Linked DNA regions of Homo sapiens: all the other regions are reported to be linked to region 1. The links are microRNA targets in miRTarBase. Many come from high-throughput screens and were not tested one by one. Region 1 holds a microRNA gene; each other region holds the end of a gene's coding sequence.

Region 1 (4,089 bases):
GGCAGGAAGGGAGGCGACGCCCCCTGGAGCGCGGCAGGAACCCGGCCCGGCCCGCCTCCCAGTCCGCCTAGCCGCGCCGGTCCCAGAAGTGGCGAAAGCCGCAGCCGAGTCCAGGTCACGCCGAAGCCGTTGCCCTTTTAAGGGGGAGCCTTGAAACGGCGCCTGGGTTCCATGTTTGCATCCGCCTCGCGGGAAGGAAACTCCATGTTGTAACAAAGTTTCCTCCGCGCCCCCTCCCTCCCCCTCCCCCCTAGAACCTGGCTCCCCTCCCCTCCGGAGCTCGCGGGGATCCCTCCCTCCCACCCCTCCCCTCCCCCCCGCGCCCCGATTCCGGCCCCAGCCGGGGGGGAGGCCGGGCGCCCGGGCCAGAGTCCGGCCGGAGCGGAGCGCGCCCGGCCCCATGGACAGCTCGGCCGTCATTACTCAGATCAGCAAGGAGGAGGCTCGGGGCCCGCTGCGGGGCAAAGGTACCGGGGCTGCGGGGAGGGGGCCGAAGCCGGGGCGCCGTGGGAGGAGAGAAGGGGCCGGGATCTTCCCCAGGGGAGCCGCCGCCGCCGCCCCGGGCGGCCGCCTTAGCTGTGCCCGAAGCTCCCAGCCCGAGAGGGAGCAGGGAGAGAGTTTGAACTCAGAGGAGGCTCAGAGACGCGGGGCGGGGCCTGGCGCCTTTGGGGCGCTCCTGTTCGCTCGAGGTGAGGAAACTGAGGCAGGAATAGAGAGGGAACTCTTCGGGGGTTTCCTGGCAGGCATTGCGTGGTGCATGGGCGCCCCCCCACCATTGGCGCCAATGGGGCTGGGAGATGGGGGAGCTGAGGAGGGCGCCTATGGGCCACCCGCTGAGACTCCGCCCCACCCCCCACCCCCACCCCCCCGGGCTGCGGTCCGGTAGGGTCTTGGGAGGGGGCGCCGAGGTGACAGCAGGCTGGGGAGGCTTGGAGGGATCTCCCGCCAACACACAGCTACGTTCCCCACAAACTTCGCGTCACGCGTGGAGGCGCCGACCCCCTCGGAGGCACAGAGAGGACGGCCGGCACTTCCAAGAGTCGCTTGGCGCCCGCGGGGAGAGTCGTGCGCCTAGTGGGCACGCACCACCCCGCAAAGCCTCGCCGCCCCGACGAGGCTGCGTCCCCCAGCGTGGCTGGGCCGGGGTGGGGGGGTCTGTCTTCTCCTTTTCCCCGTGTGGACCTCAGGATCTGGACGCTGCCCCCAGGTCTGCCCACCCTCGCCTGGGTCTGGCTGCCCCGGAACTGAGGGCAAGGTGGAAAGGCTAGTTGCAGGGGGCCGGAGGGGGGTGGGGTGGGAGGGGTATCTGTCAATCAGGCTGCTGGGCTCCAGGTCGGAGGTCTGGGCGGGGCAGGGCAAACAGATGGCCACTGGACACTGGCCCCAGGCCGCGGGACTGCACCCCTGCCTCTGGGCCCAGCCGCAGTGAGGACTTCGTACCCACGGGGGTGGAGAGGATGGAGGGAGGGCAGGGGTGGACTGCCCTGGGTCCCAGGCCCTGGCTGTCCTGAGCAGGGGTGCTCAGGTAAGGTGGGGTCAGGAGGCACCGCAATGGGGCTGATCAGCAGCAGTCATGGAGGCTGTGAGAGGCAGGGAGAGAGCACCCCAGGACCTCCTTCTCCAGGCCACGCACTCCCTATGTGGGCGCCTTAATACCTGCTAGACCTATTTGTCTGGGAGCTGCAGGAGCCTTGCAGTTGATTGTGGAGCCCTGACAGGGGCGTTTCAGAGAAAGTCAGGAGCTGCCTTCGTGTGTCTGGATGAAGGGGCCACGGCAAGATCCTCCTGGCTCAGGGGTTCACACCTGGGCACACATGCAGGATTCTGCAGGCCAGTGTGCACCGAGCCTCCAACTTGTGCCTCCCTACTTCAGGTGACCAGAAGTCAGCAGCTTCCCAGAAGCCCCGAAGCCGGGGCATCCTCCACTCACTCTTCTGCTGTGTCTGCCGGGATGATGGGGAGGCCCTGCCTGCTCACAGCGGGGCGCCCCTGCTTGTGGAGGAGAATGGCGCCATCCCTAAGGTGCGTGGGGGCCAGGTGGGGCCACGGGGGCACCTGGACTCAGTCTTCAGGGCTTTAGGGGAAGGGGCTCCTGACTGAGCTTTTCAGGATGGACTTGCAGACCTGAAAGGTGCAGAGTAGGAGGGTGGCAGCCTCCCCTGCCAGGCCCTGCCCACTGTGGGGAAACTGAATTCTCCCTCATAAGTGGAAGCTTTTTCCTACCTTGGTTTTTAGAGAGGTCTCAAAGAGCCAAGAGGCCTACCCAAGCCCTAGAGCTGGCAGGGGCAAAGCTGGGAAGGGGGAAGTATCTGTTCCTGGGGCCTGGGGTTCCTCTGGAGACGGCTAGGGGGAGAAGCCTGCGTGGGAGGAAGGACCAGGCCCGGAGAGAGGCACCCCAGCCAGCCCCGCCCTCCCTACAGCAGACCCCAGTCCAATACCTGCTCCCTGAGGCCAAGGCCCAGGACTCAGACAAGATCTGCGTGGTCATCGACCTGGACGAGACCCTGGTGCACAGCTCCTTCAAGGTGGGCCCTGCTCAACAGCCCTCAGCCCGGGTCTCGGGGGGCATCCCCCACCCTGGCCTGGGAGGGAGGTGTGTGCTGGACCCCATGCCCTGGGGCTCCTCCTCCAACTCCAGCAGCTCTTTTCCCCCCACAGCCAGTGAACAACGCGGACTTCATCATCCCTGTGGAGATTGATGGGGTGGTCCACCAGGTGAGGGCCAGGAAGAGGCAGTGGTGGGCTTGGCATCTGCCTCCAGACCCTAGGCTCTTCCCACCAATCCGGAGCGCCTCGGATGGGAATTGGATACATGTGGAATGTCAGAGGCCCAGAGAGGGTGTGAGACTTGTCCCAAAGTCACACAGAACCTCAAGGGCTTGTGCTGACTCCAAGCCTGCAGAGTGGGCTCCTCCTCTAGGCTCCCCCGTGCTGTGCTCCCTCGCCCCACCCTGCCCGGGACCCAGTTCAAGTAATTCAGGATAGGTTGTGTGCTGTCCAGCCTGTTCTCCATTACTTGGCTCGGGGACCGGTGCCCTGCAGCCTTGGGGTGAGGGGGCTGCCCCTGGATTCCTGCACTAGGCTGAGGTTGAGGCAGGGGAAGGGATTGGGAATTAGGGACCTCGTGAGGTAGGACTGGCCAGTGGAGTGGAAGTTTTGATCGTTTTCTGGCGGGGGGTGGGTACAGTTTCCCCAGCAGTGGTCAGGGTAGCTGGCCAAGCGGAGCCTGCGGGCCCAGTCTCCTTCCTGTGCGCCTCTGCCTCCCTGGCCCATGCCCTGCCAGCCCTCGGCCACCCCCACACTGCCCCACTGGCCCGCAGCCCCCTCACTGGCCCGCCCCCCAGGTCTACGTGTTGAAGCGTCCTCACGTGGATGAGTTCCTGCAGCGAATGGGCGAGCTCTTTGAATGTGTGCTGTTCACTGCTAGCCTCGCCAAGGTGAGCCCCACAGGGGTCCCGGGGCAACCCTGCCCTCCTACCTACCTCCCGCATGCAGCCCAATGAACCTGCGGGCCCCAGGATGACCCACCTCCTGCTCCCAGTACGCAGACCCAGTAGCTGACCTGCTGGACAAATGGGGGGCCTTCCGGGCCCGGCTGTTTCGAGAGTCCTGCGTCTTCCACCGGGGGAACTACGTGAAGGACCTGAGCCGGTTGGGTCGAGACCTGCGGCGGGTGCTCATCCTGGACAATTCACCTGCCTCCTATGTCTTCCATCCAGACAATGCTGTGAGTGCGGGCTGGACTGGGACTGGGACAGGAGCTGAGACCCAGGAAGGGGTCAGTCCATTCAGGCCACCTTGGCCTCTTGGATCCCCAGTTGGGGGGTGGGTGCCCTCCCAGTCCTTCCTGCATTCATTGCCTGTGCCTGCCGCCCACTCCCCTCATCCACCTGCCCTGTAGCCATATGGTCTTTTCCCCTCGCACAAAGCAGAGCATCTGCCATGCACAGGGGCCCCCACAGGGCAACGGAGTTTGGAAAGTTTCAATTTTTCGAATTGCCAGTTGTGACCTACTGATGGCCCACAGAATTAATTTAGTGGGTTCTGATTGGGAATTTTAACAAAATGAAATAGAATAGAAAATATCCG
Region 2 (4,089 bases), not on the chromosome of region 1:
GTATTATAAAATCAAGACATTCTGATATGGGTAAGCAGAGATCAAGTAAATGGGCCAATAGTTGGCATAAACAATATGATGGTTATATCTGAATACTGATTTATTTATTGCATTAATTTCACCTTCATGTCTTTACCATACTGTTTTTTTTTTCTGAGCAGACTACGAAGTTAGATATTCAGGTGACTTTCCATAAGTATTCAGTATTGTTGCCCTTTGTTCTTGTTTGTAAATTCAAGGAAAACAATGCCAATTAGACTTGCATTTAATTTGCTTTGTTCAGTGCAAAATGAAAGTACTCAATTTCTACTTGATTAGAATGGCTAAGCTTACTAAGCTAGAAATGTAGAAGGTAATTTCAATATGAATAATCCATACTCAATAAAAGAGAATTAGCTATGTCAAAAATATACATAAATATGAGTAATACTTGAAACCCAGTAAACATGTAAGAAAACTATTTTGCAAAGATAAGTACTCAGTGTTCATCATTTTCATGCTCTCCCATGGTAGGTGGCTGGCTGCAACAGAGCTATATTAATGAGCAGCATCAATGTTATTCTTTTTTTTTTTTTTTGAGAGATCAGTGTTATTCTTTAGGCCGCTATTCATTTTAACCGTGCATATTTAAATGAAGCAAGAGTCAGCAATTTTGTTATAACGAAAATATGGCATCCTATAGCTAAGTATCTTGAATACCTAACCTCTGCTTATTTTACCCTTTTAACTACCACATGATGCTTTGATTTTAAATGAAAAAAATATATCTGTTTTCCAAAAAAGATTACAAAGTGAGTACTTTGTTTTAGGGTTCATATTTATTTTCCAATTACTTTTATTGATCTTACAGAATAGTGTCTTGGTCTCTCTACTGCATTCAACAACACCAAAAATCTACAACGCTGGTGTCAACAGCAATAATTACTAAAAATTGAGCAAGCAATTTATGACTATCCGCAATTATGGAAAATGGATTCAAAAGGCATCTGCTGCAATAACAATAGTATTTATGTGTGTTAAGACACAAAAAGCCAACATAACTTTAGTACCTCAGGCATTTTTCTAATTGTGATATTTATACAAATTTTGGAAATTGATGAGTACACTGACCAGTCACCGATAATCATGAAAAAGAAAATACACATAAGTGCCTATTTAGCTAATACTGTGTTTAACTCTAGCTTGACATTGTGTGATACTGTAATCCCTTTCAAAGCACTGGAAATCACTCACATTTGCCTCAAGCTTTTTTTTAAAACAGAAGAATAATCTGATGAAGATGCCCTTATTTCAGAAACTGAGGTCATTACTATCTTTGCTTGAAACATTTTAGAAGAGTTGCTGAACAAAAAGAACACTCAATCTTAGTCTACTGGATAAACAGCGACATCTAGTGGTCATTGTATCCCTAAACAAACACCTTAAAAGCACAAACTCAAGTATCCATGAAATATATGAAATTGCCACTATCTTTAACGTATTTCCAAAGAAACTGTACAAGGAAATTATAAACACATTCTAGAAAGATTCCCTATGATTCAGGAATAATATAAATTGAAGGAAAAGTTAACCATGGACTTCTAATTTTTATTCTTAACAACTTTTTCATAGGTAAATATCCTTCAGAGGTTTTTATAAAAATCCAATTCTTATTTCTTCACGACTCAGTTCTTGTTTCTAACAGAGTGACATAAAGAACTCAAACACTATGAACTAATGAATAATAACTTCTATGGCTCTAATGAATACATGGATTGGTATGTCCCAGCAACAGATTCAGACACTCCATATGACAACACACTCATGTGCAAATTTTAAATGTTATAAAAGCTGCTACTCAATTATTGTTTGACTGAGTTTACTCTGGAGGTTTTATTAATTTTTTTGTAAATCGGGAACATATAGTTCATCAAGGTTTTCTAATACAACTAGGTCATGAAATGGAATTACAGCATCAAAATAGAATTAAAAAATCATTTTGCCATCAAAAAGTCATTGTTTCCTAGGTATGACTTTCCTATTAATGATAAAGTTAGTACATTCTTTGGCTACTGTTGTTCACTGGGACCTCGGCACATCATCTCTATGCCTGCTACCCACCAGACACCAGAAATGGCTTCTAAGGCCTTCATGGCCAGCTCCAGGGAAACTGTCTTCCTGTCACCATGAAAGACTTTTTCTGAGCACAAACCATTTGTTGCAGTTCCAAGGTTATTCATGGGACACACCGAGACTGTCCCTTCCACATGAACTGAGGTATCCCCCCCAAATCCCTTAAACATACATCAGTGAATACAGGTATGCATCACTATCTACCCATTTAATTCATCTTCCCTAGATTAACTGCCAAGTGCTAAGACTAGACCTTTCTAACAAGTCTTTGTTGATGATCATAAACAGATGAAAGATCTGGACAACAATTTTTGTGTTTACAGACCAGCCTCCCCAAACGAAGAATGAACATATTTGGTGCTCCCAGATCATCAAAATACCCACTACCCAGCCAATACCTAGACATGCTAGTGATTAGCTGGGACATTCACCTAAATGCCACTTATGTGTATGAAGAGGGCTACAGATGCCACCCTTTCTACCTCCCACTGACTGGACATGACCATCCAGAGGAATGGTATCTCACAGGCACCATCTAAAACAGTAAGGAACCATTACCACTTGGTAATTCAAATTGCGGACCATCTGAAATGGTAAGGAATCATCTTAATATCACTTAAGACTTTTACAGAAATGCTAGGCAGATGTGTTCCAATGAGCATCAAATTTCTAGTATATAAGCACTTAATCTTACTAAAGCAATGTGTGTGATTCATAAGCATTTAAAATTAACACTGAGGTCAAAGTATACATATAAAGCCTGGGGTTCTCTCCAGCCCACTATCCCCAGTGATTCCCTAGTCCTCTCCTAAGAGTTCTCAATTACAGAAGTGTATGTGTGGGCAGTAGCCACAAGTAACTAAATGTGAGGTTTACCAATGAGACAGGCAGCCATGAACGTTGGAGGCACCCGAAGCTTACTTTCTATTGCTCTACCCTATACAGACTTCATTCTCTCATTTTTCCTTCTCTTATCTCTTTGCCTTCCTATTTCTGCCTGGAGCTGGCAGTTGTAGAATAAAGCAATTTTGTGTCCTATTGCTACCTGAACCCCTGTGTTGTGTAACAAAGATGACTTCTGAATTTTAGGAAAAAATACTGCTAACTACTCAATAAGACAGACTCAGAGAGCCACGGGCAATCACAGGGTCTAGCTAAATGCTTGGATGAGCTGCCACGACAAGATCCCAACAAACCTAGAAATAATTTGGTCTGGGTCTAAATGCTAATATCATGCTGCCAAGCCTCTTTCTGAAAAGCATAAAAGCAAAATATCCCACTCCTGCAAGCAAACCAACCACAAGGGTCGTGCCAAGAACTTTTGGGGCCCTTTTCTTGGCCACCCGGAATGCTGTTGGCAGCACTGCAGAGATTAATATATTGTTGACATGTCCTAAAACCTTGTTAAATGTTTTTCTCTTCAAGACACGCTCGTAATAGGTTTCCAAGTTTGGTCGCTTTCCGTTTCCCCAGTTTCTCCTTGCAAACCCCAGGAACTTCAGTCGATGCAATGTGACAGCGAGTGAGACGTCTGCCAGGGTGAAGGATTCACCGCAGAGCCAAGGTTGCTGGCCCTCTTCTAATTAGAGAAAGGGACATAGAGAATTAGAGGCAAGCACTCTACAGACAGACTCCAGCTGGTATCAGTGGTCTCACCCTTAAGGGTGAGTGTGAGTATAGCAAAAGATGAAGGACATTATATATTTATTTTCTTGACAGCCACACTCAGAGAATAATTTCATGCTTTAAAAAAAAAGTCCATGCAAACGTATCCTAGGCCAAAGGAGACTTGCTTGACGTCTGTCAGCCATCCAGGTCCCTATGTAAGATTGCAGCCACTTGAGCTTATCACTTTGTAAAGGACACTAAGGGGTTGGGAGCCTCCAAGCTAGTTAAAAGAAACTTCCTTCTGGTTTATAAAAACAGTTCTGCTTTAGAAAAATCCATAAAGCTGAGTCTGAAACATCACTCAGTGGC
Region 3 (4,089 bases), not on the chromosome of region 1:
ATTGATAGCACATCTCACTTTGTACTAGCCACATTGCAAGTGCTCAGTAGCCACATGTGGCTAGTGGCTACTGCACTGGACAGCACAGTTCTAGGTTCCACCCTAACACCCAAGTCCTGTGGATTAGAATCCCAGAATCAGAGCTGGAAGTAAACATAGAGATCAAACCTCCTTTTAAAAATGAGGACGCTGAGGCACAGAGTTTAAATGGCTTGCATGAGGTCATACAGCTAAATTCAGCCTCAACAGGGTCTTCTGATTCCAGGCACTCTTCCCACTCCACTACATTACTGTAGTGGTAATTCTTAGGGTTAAAAAAAGTGTAGAGTAGGCCGGGCGCAGTGGCTCATGCCTGTAATCCCAGCACTTTGGGAGGCCGAAGTGGGCGGATCACGAGGTCAGGAGATCGAGACCATCCTGGCTAACATGGTGAAACCCCGTCTCTACTGAAAATACAAAGCAAAATTAGCCAGGTGTGGTGGCGGGCGCCTGTGGTCCCAGCTGCTCTGGAGGCTGAGGCAGAATGGCGTGAACCCAGGAGGCAGAGATGGCAGTGAGCCAAGATCGCGCCACTGCACTCCAGCCTGGGCGATAGAGCGAGACTCCATCTCAAAAAAAAAAAAAAAAAAAAAAAGAAAAGAAAAGAAAAGTCTAGAGTACTGTTTTTATGATACTTTCGTGCAATTTGTAGATATATTCTTTCTCACGAAAATTCAAAAAATTGACTCGCAGTAGAAAAAAGGAACATAGTGTATACCATAAAAATATGTCACTTCTAACAGCAAAAATCAAATTTAGTTGAAGAAAACTAAAACATTTTGAAGGAAACACAAACCTTAGGAGAGCTACGGTATCATACAATGCATGGATTAGATTTTGAGTCCAGGACAAAAGGATCTACAGAAAAATATTAGAGCGAACTAATAAAGGATCAAACCATGCACAGAGTATTCAACTGGCTATCTGCCCACTGGTCTATGGAATTGAACAGCCCCTCCTCTTGCAAAGAGAAAAAACTGCCACTGTGAGAGGCAGCACTGGTCTCCCTCTAGAAACTCTGCCTCTCAAATCCTGGCATCACGAGGGCAAGTCTGCCCCCATCTGCTTTTGAGGCCATCCAGCTATGATGGCCTACCCTGCCACCCCTGGCTTAGGCAGACTCTTTGGAAGCCAAGTCTAACCTGCAATGGTTCAGTCCCCTAAAAAGTGATATTGGTAGGCAGGCCCCTCTGCTCAATTTAGAGAACACAGGGGATCTTTCATACTTCTTTAGACTTAACTATAACACTTAGGCTGCTGCACACCAATTCTCCCCATCTTGTAGGATTTCTTTGGCTCATTCTAAACCTGATGTCTCTCAGGTCCTCAAGTGTCGGACCAGGAATGGTGCCAACCCTCCAACATTGCTGGGACACTATCAGTTCAAGAGGACAGTGTGCCAATACATCCTTGCCCACGAAGCCCCTGCACATTTCACACTTGAAGGAAACATTTGCTTTTGGTTATTGTCTGTTGGTATGTTTGTCATTAACATGTCTGACAGAAGTTCTAATCTATCACCTACAGCTAAAGAAATAGCATGCAGGGTCAAAATAATGCTTTGTTTTGGCGAGGGGCTCTGAGGGAAATTTTCTGGAAAGATGTAGCACCATATAGAACAGGAAACTGGATTTGAAGCCCACATTGAAGTCTGAGGGCTGCCCCATGAGTTCCCAGCCTATCTGACTTTCATTTGCGAGGCACGAGAGAGAAAATATGGGAGCATACTTGGCAAGCTATGAAGAGCTACTGAAGCAGAAAGTGTTATAAAGTATGATCCCCGAGAAGGTAGACATGCAGTATTTTAAATAATCTTAATTCTTATACTCAATTTGAGCCACCTCTGGATTAATTACTGTTAAAAATGCTCTCCAAATTTTAAATTATAACTAGAAAATTGGTTTTTAAATTATTTCTCATTGCCTCATAATTTTAAACATGTACTTGTCATTTTGTTTTATTACCTTTGGTTACAGGCAATAACTGTAATTGCCTAATTACTTAGAAAGCTACAACTAGTTCCTGGGTCAGTTAGTTAATCATTTAATCTGTGAGACCAATGTTTTCCCAAATGTGTATAAAGAAACTGGTTTATATACATTAAACATTTAAAACTCTATGAATTTAATGTGTGACTGAATTTAATGTGTGACTTTACACAAGACATTTAATCTGCCCGGGCCTACTTTTTTCCTTTAGGACAAATCTATCCCTAAGTATGTTTCCAATGTCAAAAACCTAATCTATCTATAATAGAGATCTTCAGTGATTATATTAAATCTTTTTTTTTACTTTTTTTGAGATGAAGTCTCACTCTGTTGCCCAGACTGGAGTGCAGTGGTGCGATCTCGGCTCACTGCAACCTCTGCCTCCCAGGTTCAAGCAATCCTCTCGCCTCAGCCTCCCAAGCAGTTGGGATTACAGGTGTGTGCCATTAGGTCATGAGGCCTTTGCGCTCATGAATGGACTGTCATTATCGTGGGAGTTGGTTAGTTACCTCAAGAGTGAGTGCCTGGGTAATTTTTTTTGTATTTTTAGTAGAAACGGGGTTTCACCATATTGGCCAGGCTGGTCTTGAACTCCTGACCTCAAGTGATCTGCCCGTCTCAGCCTCCCAAAGTACTGGGATTACAGGCGTGAGCCACCACGTCTGGCCTATTAAGAGTAAATCTTATATGCAGAGGTTAATCCCCAAGATCTAGGGCCCAAGATCCTTCCTTTTCTGTAAGGAAAGCTGAAACTCTTTTGACTTTCTGAGTTTTAAGCAAGAAATCATCTCACTTAAAATTCATCTTAAAGTGCTCAACTGAGCATAAATATCCCAGCTCTGTGCTTGCCTAAGTCTCCAAAGATCAAATACAGTATTCAATGTGATTATGACTATAAATTGCACTGTCCCTTTAAATGTTCAAGTACTCACTGTTTTCTTAAAGTGTGTAAGCCCTATCCTCAATTAAGGAAATTCGCAAGGAATGGAAAATGTTCCAAATTATACAAACCTACTATTATAAATGAATCTTAGACACAAAGGAAAACATCAATATATTACATTACCTCAACTAAAAAAAACTGCATCAAAAATAAAACAAAGCCAAAACAATATGTAAGTAGTATTCTTGGTTAGAAATATTTTAGCAAAAATATGGCAACTAGTGGATTATAAGCCATTTCACTGAATAAAGGAGTCTATAATAAACTTGGTTCTCTTGGGAGGAAAACGTATTTCCCCACATCCCTGTGACAGGAAGATGCAAATCTATAAAAAGTGGTAGAACATTAATAAAAGATACAAACAATATCAATACAGTACTTAAGAATAGTTGAGACAGTTTTTCGTAAATGAAATGCTTTAAAATGTTTCTCATTTTTGGAGTTAAAAATCAAAGGCTAGAGGGTCCACTGGATGTCACTGAAGTCCCCAGGGTCTCCCAGGCCCCCCTCTGCTTCTAAGTAATTCATAAATGCAGCCATGGCTGTGTCATCATTGTCACATAGGGCATCGAAATCCAACTGTGCACCATCACCTATGAATTAAAATACAGGCCTGTGTAAGTAAAGGTGATCAGTAAAGTCATACATTTCACACATTTTGAGGTTAAAAAATGATTGTGATAAAAAATGGCAAAGCAAGGCTAGAAAACCATAAAATGTATTTTTGAAGGCAAAGTATATATCTTAAGCTGCAGATGGCTGATGTATTTTTAAATGGGTTACCTAGTTTTATAACAATCTTCTGTCAGATAAATTGCACCTAATTCATCTGCTACAGAGAAGTAAGCTAGTCTATGAGTTTTCTAATAGGAAATTACACTGCTAAAGGGTACAGACTCTCAGAGAGCTGGAAGGAAGCTAGGAAATTTAGTGTATGTTTGTGTGTGTGTGTGTGTGTGTGTGTGTGTGCACGCGCAAACCCTGGAAGGAGAAAATTTAATCTGCTTATGAAAAAACCCTATCTGTTTAATACTGAAATGAGAAGCCTGAGACAGAAGCATCTTCTAAAGATTTGGAATTTTCTTATAAAAGGGAGATAAATCAGATTTTTATTGAAAA
Region 4 (4,089 bases), not on the chromosome of region 1:
ATTACAGGCATGTGCCACCATGCCCGGTAATTTTGTTTTGTTTTTTGAGATGAAGTCTCACACTGTTGCCCAGACTGGAGTGCGATCTCGGCTCACTGCAGCCTCTGCCTCCCGGGTTCAAACGATTCTCGTGCCTTAAGCCTCCCGAATAGCTGAGACTACAGGTGTGTGCTACCATACCTGGCTAATTTTTTTTTTTTTTCAGTAGAGATGGGGTTTCACCATGTTGGCCAGGCTGGTCTTGAACTCCTGACCTCAAGTGATCTGCCTGCCTCGGCCTCCCAAAATGCTGAGATTACAGGCATGAGTCACCATATCCGGCCTCTACACATTTTTTTTTTTTAATTAGCTGGGCATGGTGGTACGTGCCTATAATCCCAGCTCCTTGGGAGGGTGAAGTGGGAAGATCACTTGTGCCCAGGACATTGAGGTTGCAGTGAGCTAAGATCATGCCACTGTGCTCTAGCTTGGTGACACAGGAAGACCTTACATTAAAAAAAAAAAAAAAAAAAAAAAAAAAACCTATGAACATTTAACAATTATAATCAGCATTTATTCGGAAAAACTTAAATGATGTACATAATCATTACCTAAAAACCATTTTGAAAGAATTTACGACATCAAATGGCAAAAGTGTTTGTGGAAATTGTAATGCATACTGGGCGATGGCTCAAAAGGCCAATGTTGAAAGCTATCACTAAAAATAGATGCTTAAAATGTAACATGGAGGGGAAAGAGGGAACTTGGAAAAGATAAAGGTATATTGGTTTTAGGTCTAATAATCACAGGTAAGAAAGTCTTTGTTTAAAAAACAAGCCTGGGCCGGGCGCGGTGGCTCACGCCTGTAATCCCAGCACTTTGGGAGGCCGAGGCGGGTGGATCATGAGGTCAGGAGATCGAGACCATCCTGGCTAACAAGGTGAAACCCCGTCTCTACTAAAAAAAAATACAAAAAATTAGCCGGGCGCGGTGGCGGGCGCCTGTAGTCCCAGCTACTCGGGAGGCTGAGGCAGGAGAATGGCGTGAACCCGGGAAGCGGAGCTTGCAGTGAGCCGAGATTGCGCCACTGCAGTCCGCAGTCCGGCCTGGGCGACAGAGCGAGACTCCGTCTCAAAAAAAAAAAAAACAAAAAAAAAAACAAAAAAAAAACAAAAAACAAAAAAAAAAAAAAAAAAAACAAGCCTGGCAGGGGTAGGGCAGGGAGGGGTTGCTCATGCCTTATACTCCCAGCACTTTGGGAGGCCGAGGCGGGCCTATCACCTGAGGCCAGCAGTTCAAGACCAGCCTGGGCAACACGGCGAAACCCCGTCTCTACTAAAAATACAAAAATTAGCCGGACGTGGTGGTGCACGTCTATAATCCCAGCTACTCGGGAGGCTGAGGCAGAAGAATTGCTTGAACCCAGGAGGCGGAAGTTGCAGTGAGCTGAGATTGCACCATTGCACTCCAGCCTGGGCAACAAGAGTGAAACTCCGTCTCAAAAAAATAAAAAACATACCTATTTAAGGAGGCTTTTTTCCTTAGTTTTAGTTGGTGTTGATAAGCTCAGCAAAGGAGCTTTAGGGTAATACTTGATGACAGCAAAATGAAGGAAACCTTACTGAAGGTAAAAACTTAGCAAAACACTCCCCAGAGGGACAAAAGTTTTTTGCAAATACAATATACTTACTTATGCTTTCTACCAGTCACCAACACAGAAAGACCAAAAATTGTGTATGAGAAAGTGATATTAAGATTTGAGATTTTATTCTAATTCAGTGGCATCAATCATGTAAAGAGCCATGCGGTTGAAGTGGTCCGCTGTGGCACGCAGCCCCACAGTGATGGTGCGCTTTATGCCCTGTTCATGTTGGGGCAGCCTATACCATCTAGAAACCACAGCTGCAGTAACCATTGATATATAGACCTGTGTTACTTCTACAAGTGTTCCATTCCAACTGTACATATGCTTTAGAGTTCAAAATCTAAGTCCAGATATACTATTATAATGGGCCAGGTCCCAGACATTCTTCCTCACACCAACCAGCTAGTCCTTTTGATCTTACTCCGAACCCCAATGTACGAAATCTGAAGTGCTTGTAAGGATTTAGAACAGCACAGACTACCCGGAACAAAGGAGATACAAAACATTTCTTAGCAACCAAAAATAAAAGGGAAATGGGCCACTGAGGCAGATGGGTCTCTCAGATTAAATGCCATATAAATTGCATGTGTGGAACCAAATACAGCAGAAAACCCTCAGTTAATGAGGCATAGCTTGGTAAATTGGGAACTTGATGAGGGTTTTTAACGTAATCTGGTATCACTTAGAATGGCCTTAGTTTCCCATTCTCTCAGCACCTTCACAGAGGCCCACATGCCTCTGACATCAAATCTGTCAAACTTGGGGACAAAGGACATTAACAGTTCTTGAAAGGTGACCTTAGTTAATGATACCCACAGATACTAATTTCATTACTTAAGGAATCTGTGTTCCTCAGAATTTCCAGAATCACAAGTGATACCTGCCAATTACAGTTTAAGTTACTAACGGATATACAACTCTTCAAGGCAGAAACTTAAGTCTCATTATGTTGGTTACATATACTGTTTTTATTTGGGTTTGTTGAATGAGAATAAAAACACCCCAGTTTCTTCTGCAGGTCGAGCCCTTCTCTATAACGGTCATTACAAACAACCCTGAAGTGGCTGGAATATAGTCAGCAAGGGGCCCACATGAACAGCTCATCTGGAATCTTTGCAAGTACGTATTTATGTCCTTTGGTGCCTTGCACAGTAAGGCACTGTTAATGACGTAACAGAATAGAGGAAATGCCCACAGCAAATAGTTCTAGTGACAATTTACTAGACAAGTTACAGTTTAATAATGGTGGTGGTGATTGTTTCTTTCATTTTATTATTATTATTTTTTTACAATAAGGGTGTAGCCTTTATACTCCACACACACAAAATAAAACAAGTGCTTATTACGAAAAGAGTCCCTGCCCCCACCCCCTAGAACATCCTGAACATAGCAATTCAACAGAACAGAAAAATCAAGACGTTTGATTTCAAAATTTCAATAAAAAAGCAAAAGTATGTAATGCAACAGCTGTTCAACTTCCAACTCTAAATAGGCACCATTAAACAAAAAACCCCAGTATTTTAAATTTCTCCAGCACACATTCCAGGATCAATGCTCTGAACTGTAATCAGCTAGTAATTCATAACGGGAATACAGCCTTAGAATGGAAGCTATATTGCTTCCCTGCCCCCTTTCTCTTACAATTGGAGAGTGTAGGTATTAAGGGATACAAAGTCAGAGGAAGAATAATTAAAAAGAAAAATGCCCAAAGCTGCAGCTGTTTGGACTAGGAAGACAGCATTTTACAAACGTTCAAAAAATCCCAAGGCAAGTAACACAATTTGTTCACTAGCACTCTTACTTGAAAGAATAAAGAGATCAGCATCTTATTATATAAAACTGTACTTTCAGAACTGTATTACAGGTTCACCAGAAACTATGGATGTAGTTTTAGGCATCATCAAGGAAAACAGGTTCAGTTCAGATCAAGTTAGATACTGTACATCTAGCCTAGCTGGATCTGGTGTCTGGATCTGCTCACTGTCACCCTGAACAGCTGTGAACTAAACAATAGTACGTAACTCCGTAGGAAGCTTAAGGACTGAAGAAATGTACACAGCTAGTTAGATCTCCCCTGCTTCGCGCTCTTCAGAGCTCCTCCTGTCTTCTGATCTGCCATTAGCACTCTCATAGGACCGCTTCTTATCTTTCCGATCTCTGTCACGAGGTGATCTGTCTCTTGAACTCCTGTCTCTGTCACATGATGCTAAGTCTTGGTCTCTGAATCTTTCTTTTGAGGATCTGAAAAATATTAATTTGAGGAGCAAAATATGTTGGGAAACCCAAAAACCCAAATTAAAGAATAGGATAAATATTAAGCTCTTGATAGCTGAAGATATATAGACGAATATACCCATGACAGAGGAGTCAGTTTTCTGACAAATTACAGAGCACTACCATAGTTGATAAGGGCATTAAAACAAGAAGATGGGTGAAAAACAAATAGCAGAGGGTCAGAAGGCTAA
Region 5 (4,089 bases), not on the chromosome of region 1:
TTGCCATACTGTGTTAAAATCTCATGATTTTGTCGCTATGTTTTGTGTACTGATAAGCTGTTGAGACCATACACTAATTTTCATCTTCAATCATTTTGCCTATGAATGTGTGGGCGTAAGGACAGGGTAAAGGAATTTCATTTTTTTCTTTCTGGGAACATAAGCCTTTACCAGTGGAACTTATTTGTTTGGGGTTTTGCTTTGGAACAGGACTCCTTAGATGAAGCCCGACAGAAAATTTTCGACATCCGGGAAGAGTACAGAAACAAATTGCTGGAAGCTGAGCACCTAAAGCTGGAAACTCTGGCTGCTCAGGAAGCAGCCATGAAGCTGGAGACAGAAAAGATGACCCCAGCTCCTGACACACAGAAAAAAAAGAAAGGAAAGAAAAAGTAACCAGGGGATGTCCAATACTACCCTGCTTCTGGAGAGAAAAAATCTATTTGTAATGATCTTTAACTGCCTGCTGTTAAGATATTAGGCCAAATGAAAATAGAAATTTCTCTTTCTTAGAAATATTTTAATGCTAACTTGTTAGTTTTCCTCAGAAAGCTAGTATTTGAAGCCATTTGAGTTTAAGATGCTCTAATTTCAATAAAATAGCTTCCAAATATTTAATAAAATATGTTTGACACTCTAAACTGCCTGCATTTTTAATTAGAAGTGAAACAAGTTCATAAATTAAGCAACATGATTATCTTTGAAAATTTCAGCAATGAGAAAAGTGGCTTTTGTTCTTAGAAGAAATTTAGTCTTAAACTTTAAAGGTTTAAAAATACTAATAACTATGCTTCAGAATTATGCCTTTTTTTTTTTTTTTTTTTTTTTTAAGACTGAGTCTCACTCTGTTGCCCAACTGCAGTGCAGTGGTATAATCTCAGCTCACTGCAACCTCCACCTCCTGGACTCAAGCCATCCTCCTAATTTTTTTCTTTGGAGATGGAGTTTCACTTTTGTTATTGGGGTGATCATACCCAACACCAGGTCGTGGGGGTGACAAAGTCCAGCGGAGTCAAAGGATTGAGAAAAAGACAGTTTGAGAGAGAAAGCTGGGACCAAGTGGCCATTGCGATCGTGGAGGCCGCGAAGGCCTCGAGCTGTGGGAGCCCACGCTATTTATTGGTAATCAACAAAGAAACAGGTGGTGAGAATGTGGAGGTCAAAAGGGCAGGCGCATCATCTACAGCTGTGACGGTTTAGCATTTATGTGGAACATGTTCTGCTACTTGAGATAATGGGAATAGGAGCCTAGGAGGGCTAGAAGCAAGGAGCCAGCAAGTCTAGACACATTCCAGAGGACATTATGTCAGACATGCAAGCCCTGCCTCAGTTTTTGTCCCAACACTCAGCTTTTTCCTAACACTTGTTGCCTAGGCGGGAGTGCAATGGCGCAATCTCAGCTCACTGCAACCTCCACCTCCTGAGTTCAAGTGATTCTCTTGCCTCAGACTCCTGAGTAGCTGGGATTAGGGGTGTGGCTACCACGCCTGGCTAATTTTGTATTTTTAGTAGAGACGGGGGTTTCACTAGGTCGACCAGGCTGGTATTGAACGCCTGACCTCAGGTGATCCACCCACCTCGGCCTCCTAAAATGCTGGGATTACAGGCTGGAGCCATGGCACCCGGCCAATTTCTGTAGAGACAGGGTTTCGCCATGTTTCCCAGGTTGTTCTCAAACTCCTGAGTTCAAGAGATCCATCCATGTCAGCTTGCTTCCCAAAATGCTGGAATTACAGGCATAAACCACCATGCCTAGCTTAAAAATATTTAATACTCCCATATATGGTCGACTAATTTTGGACAAGGATGCCAAAAATACACATGATGAAAGAAAATCGTTTCAAAAATGATGTTGGAAAAACTAAATATCCACATGCAAAAGAATAAAATAGGAACATTGCCCTATGCTGTATAAAAAAATTAAATAGATTAAAGATTTAAATGTAACATTGGAACTCATAAAACTCTTAGAAGATTGCCTACAAAAAAATCTCCTTGACATTGGTCTTGGCAATTTCTTTTGGAGATGACACCAAAAGCACAGGGAACAAAAGCAAACATAAACAAGTAGGACTACATAAAAATAAAAAGCTACTGCGCGACAAAGGAAACAACAAAATGAAAAGACAATCTATAGAATGGGAGAAAATACTTGTAAACTGTATATCTGATAAGGGGCTAATATTTAAAATATATTAAACTCATGTAACTCAATAGCAAAAAAAGCAAATAACCTGGTTTTAAAATGGGCAAAGGACTTGAATAAACACCAATCCAAAGAAGACACAGGAATGACCAACAGGTATATGCAAAGGTACTCAGCATCATTAACCATTAGAGAAATGCAAATCAAAACAACAATGAGGTATCACCTCACACCTGTTAAGATGGCTTTTATAAAGACAAGAGATAAGTGTTGGGGAGGGTGTGGAGAAAGGGAACCCTGTACACACTGTGGTGAGAATGTAAATTGCAATAGCCATTACAGAAAACAGTATGGAAGTTTCTCAAAAAATTAAAACTAGAGCTACCATATGATCTAGCAATCCCACTCCTGGGTATATATTAAAGGAAACGAAATCAGTATGTCTATGAGAGGTCTGCAACCCTCTGTTCATGGCAGCATTATTTACAATAGTGATATGGAAACAGCCTAAGTGTCCATCAATTGATGAATGAATAATGAAAATGTGGTATATATATATATAATGGAATATAATTGAACCATAAAATAGAAGGAAATCCTGCCATTTGCAACAACATAGATGAACCTGTAGGGCATTATGCTAAGTGAAATATGCCAGAAACTGAAAGAAAAATAATGCATAATCTCACTCACATGTGGAATTGTGAAAGTTGAACTCATAGAAGCAAAGTGTAGGACAGTGGTTACCAGAGACTTAGGGGTGAGAGAAATGGGGAGATGTTGGTCAAAGAGTACAAACATTTAGTTATAAGCTGACAAATTGTGTATCTCAGGCACAGAACGGATGGTGCCATCAGAATCAATAGTAGTAATTAAATTGAATATATTAATCATTATTCAGTGTATACATATATCAAACCATCATGTGGTATACTTTGAAAATATACAATGTTTATTTTTCAAAAAATTTTTTAAGTTTACATGAAAAAGTTAATATTTTATACACCTCCCCAGTTGTATATGTAATGTTACTTAATAAATGCAAATGTGCATTTTTACATTATTCTTTGCCTACTCTTAGCTTCACAACCTTATGACCCCAGCTCCCAAAGTACATACATAGAAACAACCTATTTTGAATGTTTCCATATTTTTCATTCATCTCATATGCTCACACCTCAATATTTTATATTATATCCTGGTTTGTTTTACAAAATGGCATTCTTTAAAGCATAATACAATGTGTCTTGCTTTTTCTCACCAAACAACACAGAATCTCTTGAAGTCACTGTTAATTCTTTTTAATTGTTATGAAATATTCCATGGTACAAATATACCATAATTTATTCATAAATTTATGAATTTTATATATACATATATGTGTCTGTGTGTATATATATATTCAGGTAGTGTGTGTATATATATATTCAGGATATTCAAGTACTAACATTAATATTATATATTCTTTAAGTTAGATAAAAATTCATCTGCAAACAATTTGTCATTATAATTTAAATGATGTATTTTTGATCAATTACTTTCTTTCAGATATTTTTTGCTATTATTTGTTTGATAGTTTTCACTTGCTTTCTTTTACTTTTCTTGCTGTGCCTTTTTTTTTTTTTTTTTTTTTTTTTGAGATGGGGTCTCCCTCTGTCTCCCAGGCTGGAGTGCAATGGTGTGATCTCAGCTCACTGCAACCTCCACCTCCCAGGTTCAAGTGATTTTCCTGCCTCAGCCTCCTGAGTAGCTGGGATTACAGGTGTGTGCCACCACGCCTGGCTAATTTTTTTTTTTTTTTTTTTTTTTAGAGACAGGGTTTCACCATGTTGGTCAGGCTGATCTCGAACTCCTGACCTCATGATCCGCCTGCCTTGGCCTCCCAAAGTGCTGGGATTACAGATGTGAGCCACCGTGCCCAGCCTGCTGTGTTTTTTAAACTA
Region 6 (4,089 bases), not on the chromosome of region 1:
CGAGGGACTCAGACCAGCTCTCCTGCCTATCTGGGGAAACTGATGTGATGGTGACTGCCGAAACAGCAGAAGCCAGCCAAACATTTGGGGAAGGAGATCAAGGGGAAGGCTGCAGCACCACCTGTGCTCAAAATAATGTGTTACCCCAGACAGTTCAGAAGAGAGAGGCAAAAGAGAGCATCCTGGCTGACGTTAGAAAAGAGTCTGTCTTTATTTCAGGTGATCAGGAAGTAAGGTGTGCAGCTCTTTCAACTCAGACGACCTCTGATCATGATGGAAAAGACAACTATCACTGGAATTATCTTCTTAGTTGGGAGCCCAAATTCCAACCTCTTGCCTCAGTATTTAATGATATTGCAAAACTAAAGGATGAACATTTGCATATGCCTGGCATTCCAAAAGAGAAGAAATCTTTTGTTTTTCCACCCCCTTTGATAACAGCAGTAGCCCAGCCTGGGATTAAAGCAGTCCCACCAAGAATGCCGGCAGTAAACCTGGGGCAGGTGCCTCCGAAACACCCACGCTCTCCCATCCCCTACCATCTTGGTTCTCTGCCAGAAGGCATGACTCCCAATTTTTCTCCATCTCTTTCCCTATTGACGATGCAGCCTCCTGCCTTGTCTCCACTGTTGAGAGAAGGAGAATTATTAGGAACACACATCAGTGGTACATGCCATGAACTTAAAGCAGAAGATGAAGTTCAAATATGAAACCACTGGGATGCCAAGTACCTGCTCACCATTGGTCATGAATGAATGAACAAAATGTTTTCAAGCCAGCAACTCGAGATTGGGCTCATTTTTATCTAAAAGCAAGTGATGTAATTTAGTTAGAGTTTTTAAAACTTCCCCATTAAAGTTTCTCCAATTTCTTCCAGCCTTAATGAAAAGTTATTTCCTCTTTTAATCCTTATGTGTTGCTCTCAGGACTCACATTTGTATATATTAAGTAGTGTATATTCTGTCAGACCTGTTGTCTGTATGATTAGACTTCCAAAGGACACAGTGAACTTAACTGACTGCCAGAATGTTTATATGGAAACAAAATATAGTGTACTCTGGTCACATTGCTGCTGATCACACTGCTATATCAAAAACAAACTAGTAAAGGCTAAATGGAGAATGAGTTTAGGTCAGAACATATAGCAGAGAGGGGAAGTCTAGAGGAATAAACTTTCATTTTAAGATAAAGCAATAGTTGGTGGATCTGATATATTTAGAGGAGTATTTCTCCATTTTTCCCCATATACCACACCTGTAGAGTTTAGCCATAATTGAATTTCAATGTGGAGTCTTTTGGAAAACTAATAAAAAATTCAGAAGGAAATTTGTCATAACTCTGTGACAATAGGGAGAAACAAATAGGATTTATAATGATAGGTAATATAAATAATTATTCATGATTCAATAAACCAGAAATGCATGTTCCTGATAGAGGGCCAGGATTGATACTCGCAATATTTATGTGGTTTGCTACCACCTGAAACATATTATCTTGGCCTTCTTTACAAACAGAATGGCTTTTTTTTCAGGTCTTGTCTTATAAGTAGGTGTGGGTAAAGACATTAAACTTCAAAGGTTAATTTATAGCAATGTCTTCATTTTATTTTCTTCTAGATACAGTAACTTTTTTGTGTGAAATAATTTATCCACTCAATGTCAGTTTTTAAAATTTGTGTAGATAAAAATCATGTCATTAGCTAATGATAAATCTCATAGAGTAATTTAGCAATATATTTTTAAATGAAGTTTTTTATGGAAATGTTTCTACTATAAAAGTTAAGAATAGAAGTCAGAAGTCTTTTTACCATTTGCTCACACACTTGCAGCTTTAATTTAACTGTCATTAGATGGAGCAGTTTGGCACATGGTTAAAATGACTCTGTACAATTACTATTTTAGAAATATAGCAGTGCTAGATGGTGCTCACATACAATGCTCTAGCCTTCTTTCTGATAAGCCTGGGAATCCCTCACAGATTCTCATCCCTTTCAGGAAGGTGGACAGCATCCTGACGATGGTGGTTCAGAAGTCCTCTTCCTGTGGTCAGCATGAGGGCCAGGTGTTAGGCTAACAGTTTAGGAATTCTAATGTGAAATCTAAAGGGTATCGTGTGGCTTTCTTAGTAGTTAGGATGGGCTTCTACTACAGATATAGTTCCTTTGTGTTCTTCTTCCATAGGCCTCATCTGTGAAATTTTGTGACATAATTTCTCTTTACTAAAAAATATTGCAAGGTGCAGTGTTTGATGTCTGGTTTTGTAGATAAGTAATTCTACAGCTTCCTATGCTGATATTTTCTATTATCTATCTATGCTGACTGAGATTGGGAACAAATGTATAAAGCTATATTACAAATTGTATGAAACATGAAGGTTTTTGAATAAGCCTGAAATCCTAGGAAAAATCCTTTAGGAGTAGAAAATTTAAATACTATGGGACTGATATATGATGTTTCTCCTTTTCTTCCTGGCATCTGGGGAAGAAGATTTCATGACTTATGTAAAAAAAAAACCCACACATATTTAATCATTTATGTGTTCCAGTATTTATTATCTCTGACTCTTTTGAAAACATTGCTTTGAGCATAGAAAGAAACCCTATACTATATTTTCCTAATTATATATGGAAGTTTTCTTTTCACAATAGAATTATTTCTGGAAACTAAGAACATTTTGTTGTTTTTAATTAAACAGGTTCTTCATTTACTTATGCTTAAAAAGAGTTATTCATCTACCTATTCCCTAAGTTAGTTATTTATTACTGTGATTTATTTACTCATTATGGATGTGATTCTGTATGTTTTCTAGCCATTGCATAACAAGAGAAGACATGTAATAGAGCTTTTTTACCAATATTTAATGGATTTTTAATTGATGGGTTTATCAGTCTGTATCCAGTGCCACAATGCCACCAAACAAGTACTACAAGTGGGAATGGGGTTAAAAATGTGAACACGCTGGTTAAGTGTTTGCAATAAATCGTATGTCAGCTCTTTCAACTAGAGTGCTTTTTTTCCTAAGTAAACAATATAATTTGTACATTTTTCCTTCAAGTTTAATATTAACTTGCCTCATATGTTCTGGGTTACTTTGCTGATCTATGCACTGGCTTTAGCACTCTGGAGGGGGTACAGAACTTGTTAGTGGAAAATCATATTAAGCCCCAAATTCATAAGCTATAAAATAAAAGACAGTTGTCTCTTGTGGAATTTTGGCTGCCTGATGAAATTCTGGACTTTCTTGTTGGCAGCCTTAAAAATACTGGTGTAAATCAGTACCAAATGGATATCAAAATTCCATGTCCTAGTAGTAATCATTGAATTGGCTTCCAAAACAGATTCCTGGGCAAAGAAAAAGAAAAATGCTGTATCTTTAGGGATTTGATCATTTAACTCTTTTAAAAATTATTAAAATGCACTCTACATTACTGGCTGCCTCCATGTATTCATATTCAATCTATAATAGACGTCCAGTTGAGACAGGATTTGTGTTTCTCAGCACCTTCACCTTTAGCCCTCCTTGCTGTGTTTTCTAGAAGTTATAGCAATGAAAATTAATTGTAAATTTTAGTTATTTTCATCCAAACAGACACTTTGTTACTTTTGTTCTGCCATTCTATACATACCTTAACTTTAAAAAGCAAGACATAACTAAGGATCTAAGATAATCCACTTCAAAGCAATAAAATATATGGCGTTAATATGGTCAGTGTATTCTCACGTGATATTCCAGATAAGCAAATTGAGTTTATTTTCACAGCGTGTTTTACTTGAGCTCAAAGGTATAGAGACATCTATTTGGCCATAACTGAAGGAACTTAGAATGGAAGATGGTCCTGTACAGGAGGGATACTGGGATCCAGTGGAGTTGCAGAAGATTTGCTTAGGACCCAAACGAAGCATTTCAGTGGGAGTTTTTACCCACTATAAAGATGGAAGGAGAAAAGTGAAAGAGGAAGGGAGGGGGAGAGGCAGGCAGGGACAGAAGAGAAATAGACAATTAAATCTTAAAATGAATAATTAGGACACAAGTAGAGAAATACAAGAAAGTAGATGGGTAGGGACTTTTAAAAAGTAATTTTTAGTGTAT

Evidence for each region. Region 1 holds the annotated microRNA hsa-miR-26b-5p (UUCAAGUAAUUCAGGAUAGGU, at 2,967-2,987, shown strand). A microRNA usually pairs through its seed, bases 2 to 8, with sites in the 3' UTR of a target mRNA and lowers its output. Matches are read on the target gene's strand: a 7mer-m8 pairs with bases 2 to 8, a 7mer-A1 pairs with bases 2 to 7 and ends in A, and an 8mer does both.
Region 2: the mRNA of GDAP1 is a reported target of hsa-miR-26b-5p. Seed matches in the 3' UTR shown: 7mer-m8 at 1,436-1,442.
Region 3: miRTarBase lists BMAL2 as a target of hsa-miR-26b-5p. Seed matches in the 3' UTR shown: 8mer at 2,947-2,954.
Region 4: the mRNA of LUC7L2 is a reported target of hsa-miR-26b-5p. The part of its 3' UTR that is shown has no 7-base or 8-base seed match.
Region 5: the mRNA of ADGB is a reported target of hsa-miR-26b-5p. The part of its 3' UTR that is shown has no 7-base or 8-base seed match.
Region 6: miRTarBase lists DCHS2 as a target of hsa-miR-26b-5p. The part of its 3' UTR that is shown has no 7-base or 8-base seed match.

What each region holds. Positions count from the first base shown.
Region 1 is chr2:218,399,691-218,403,779 of GRCh38, forward strand. It overlaps MIR26B (microRNA 26b), which reads left to right and starts at 2,956; the gene lies at 2,956-3,032. It overlaps CTDSP1 (CTD small phosphatase 1), which reads left to right and starts at 178. Exons shown (of 7, transcript NM_021198.3): 1 at 178-467; 2 at 1,874-2,022; 3 at 2,421-2,525; 4 at 2,659-2,715; 5 at 3,345-3,437; 6 at 3,542-3,727. The coding sequence starts at 401. RefSeq lists silencers at 1-155, 226-305, 466-625.
Region 2 is chr8:74,363,587-74,367,675 of GRCh38, reverse strand. It overlaps GDAP1 (ganglioside induced differentiation associated protein 1), which reads right to left. Exons shown (of 6, transcript NM_018972.4): 6 at 800-3,691. The coding sequence ends at 3,309. Among named protein-coding and RNA genes, the nearest start is that of GDAP1, 15 kb to the right of the region's middle.
Region 3 is chr12:27,419,870-27,423,958 of GRCh38, reverse strand. It overlaps BMAL2 (basic helix-loop-helix ARNT like 2), which reads right to left. Exons shown (of 17, transcript NM_020183.6): 17 at 1-3,563. The coding sequence ends at 3,427. All of the region lies in intron 1 of BMAL2-AS1 (BMAL2 antisense RNA 1), which reads left to right. It also overlaps a transcript of SMCO2 not described here. Among named protein-coding and RNA genes, the nearest start is that of BMAL2-AS1, 25 kb to the left of the region's middle.
Region 4 is chr7:139,421,939-139,426,027 of GRCh38, reverse strand. LUC7L2 (LUC7 like 2, pre-mRNA splicing factor) reads right to left here. Exons shown (of 10, transcript NM_016019.5): 10 at 2,574-3,865. The coding sequence ends at 3,688. It overlaps FMC1-LUC7L2 (FMC1-LUC7L2 readthrough), which reads right to left. Exons shown (of 11, transcript NM_001244584.3): 11 at 2,574-3,865. The coding sequence ends at 3,688. LOC100129148 (a long non-coding RNA gene) reads left to right here. Exons shown (of 3, transcript NR_033999.1): 2 at 2,643-2,743. Among named protein-coding and RNA genes, the nearest start is that of KLRG2, 60 kb to the left of the region's middle.
Region 5 is chr6:146,814,822-146,818,910 of GRCh38, forward strand. ADGB (androglobin) reads left to right here. Exons shown (of 36, transcript NM_024694.4): 36 at 211-641. The coding sequence ends at 396. Among named protein-coding and RNA genes, the nearest start is that of ADGB, 220 kb to the left of the region's middle.
Region 6 is chr4:154,231,157-154,235,245 of GRCh38, reverse strand. It overlaps DCHS2 (dachsous cadherin-related 2), which reads left to right. Exons shown (of 20, transcript NM_001358235.2): 20 at 1-3,504. The coding sequence ends at 710. The region is part of intron 12 of LOC101927947 (a long non-coding RNA gene); the gene reads right to left. Among named protein-coding and RNA genes, the nearest start is that of DCHS2, 260 kb to the left of the region's middle.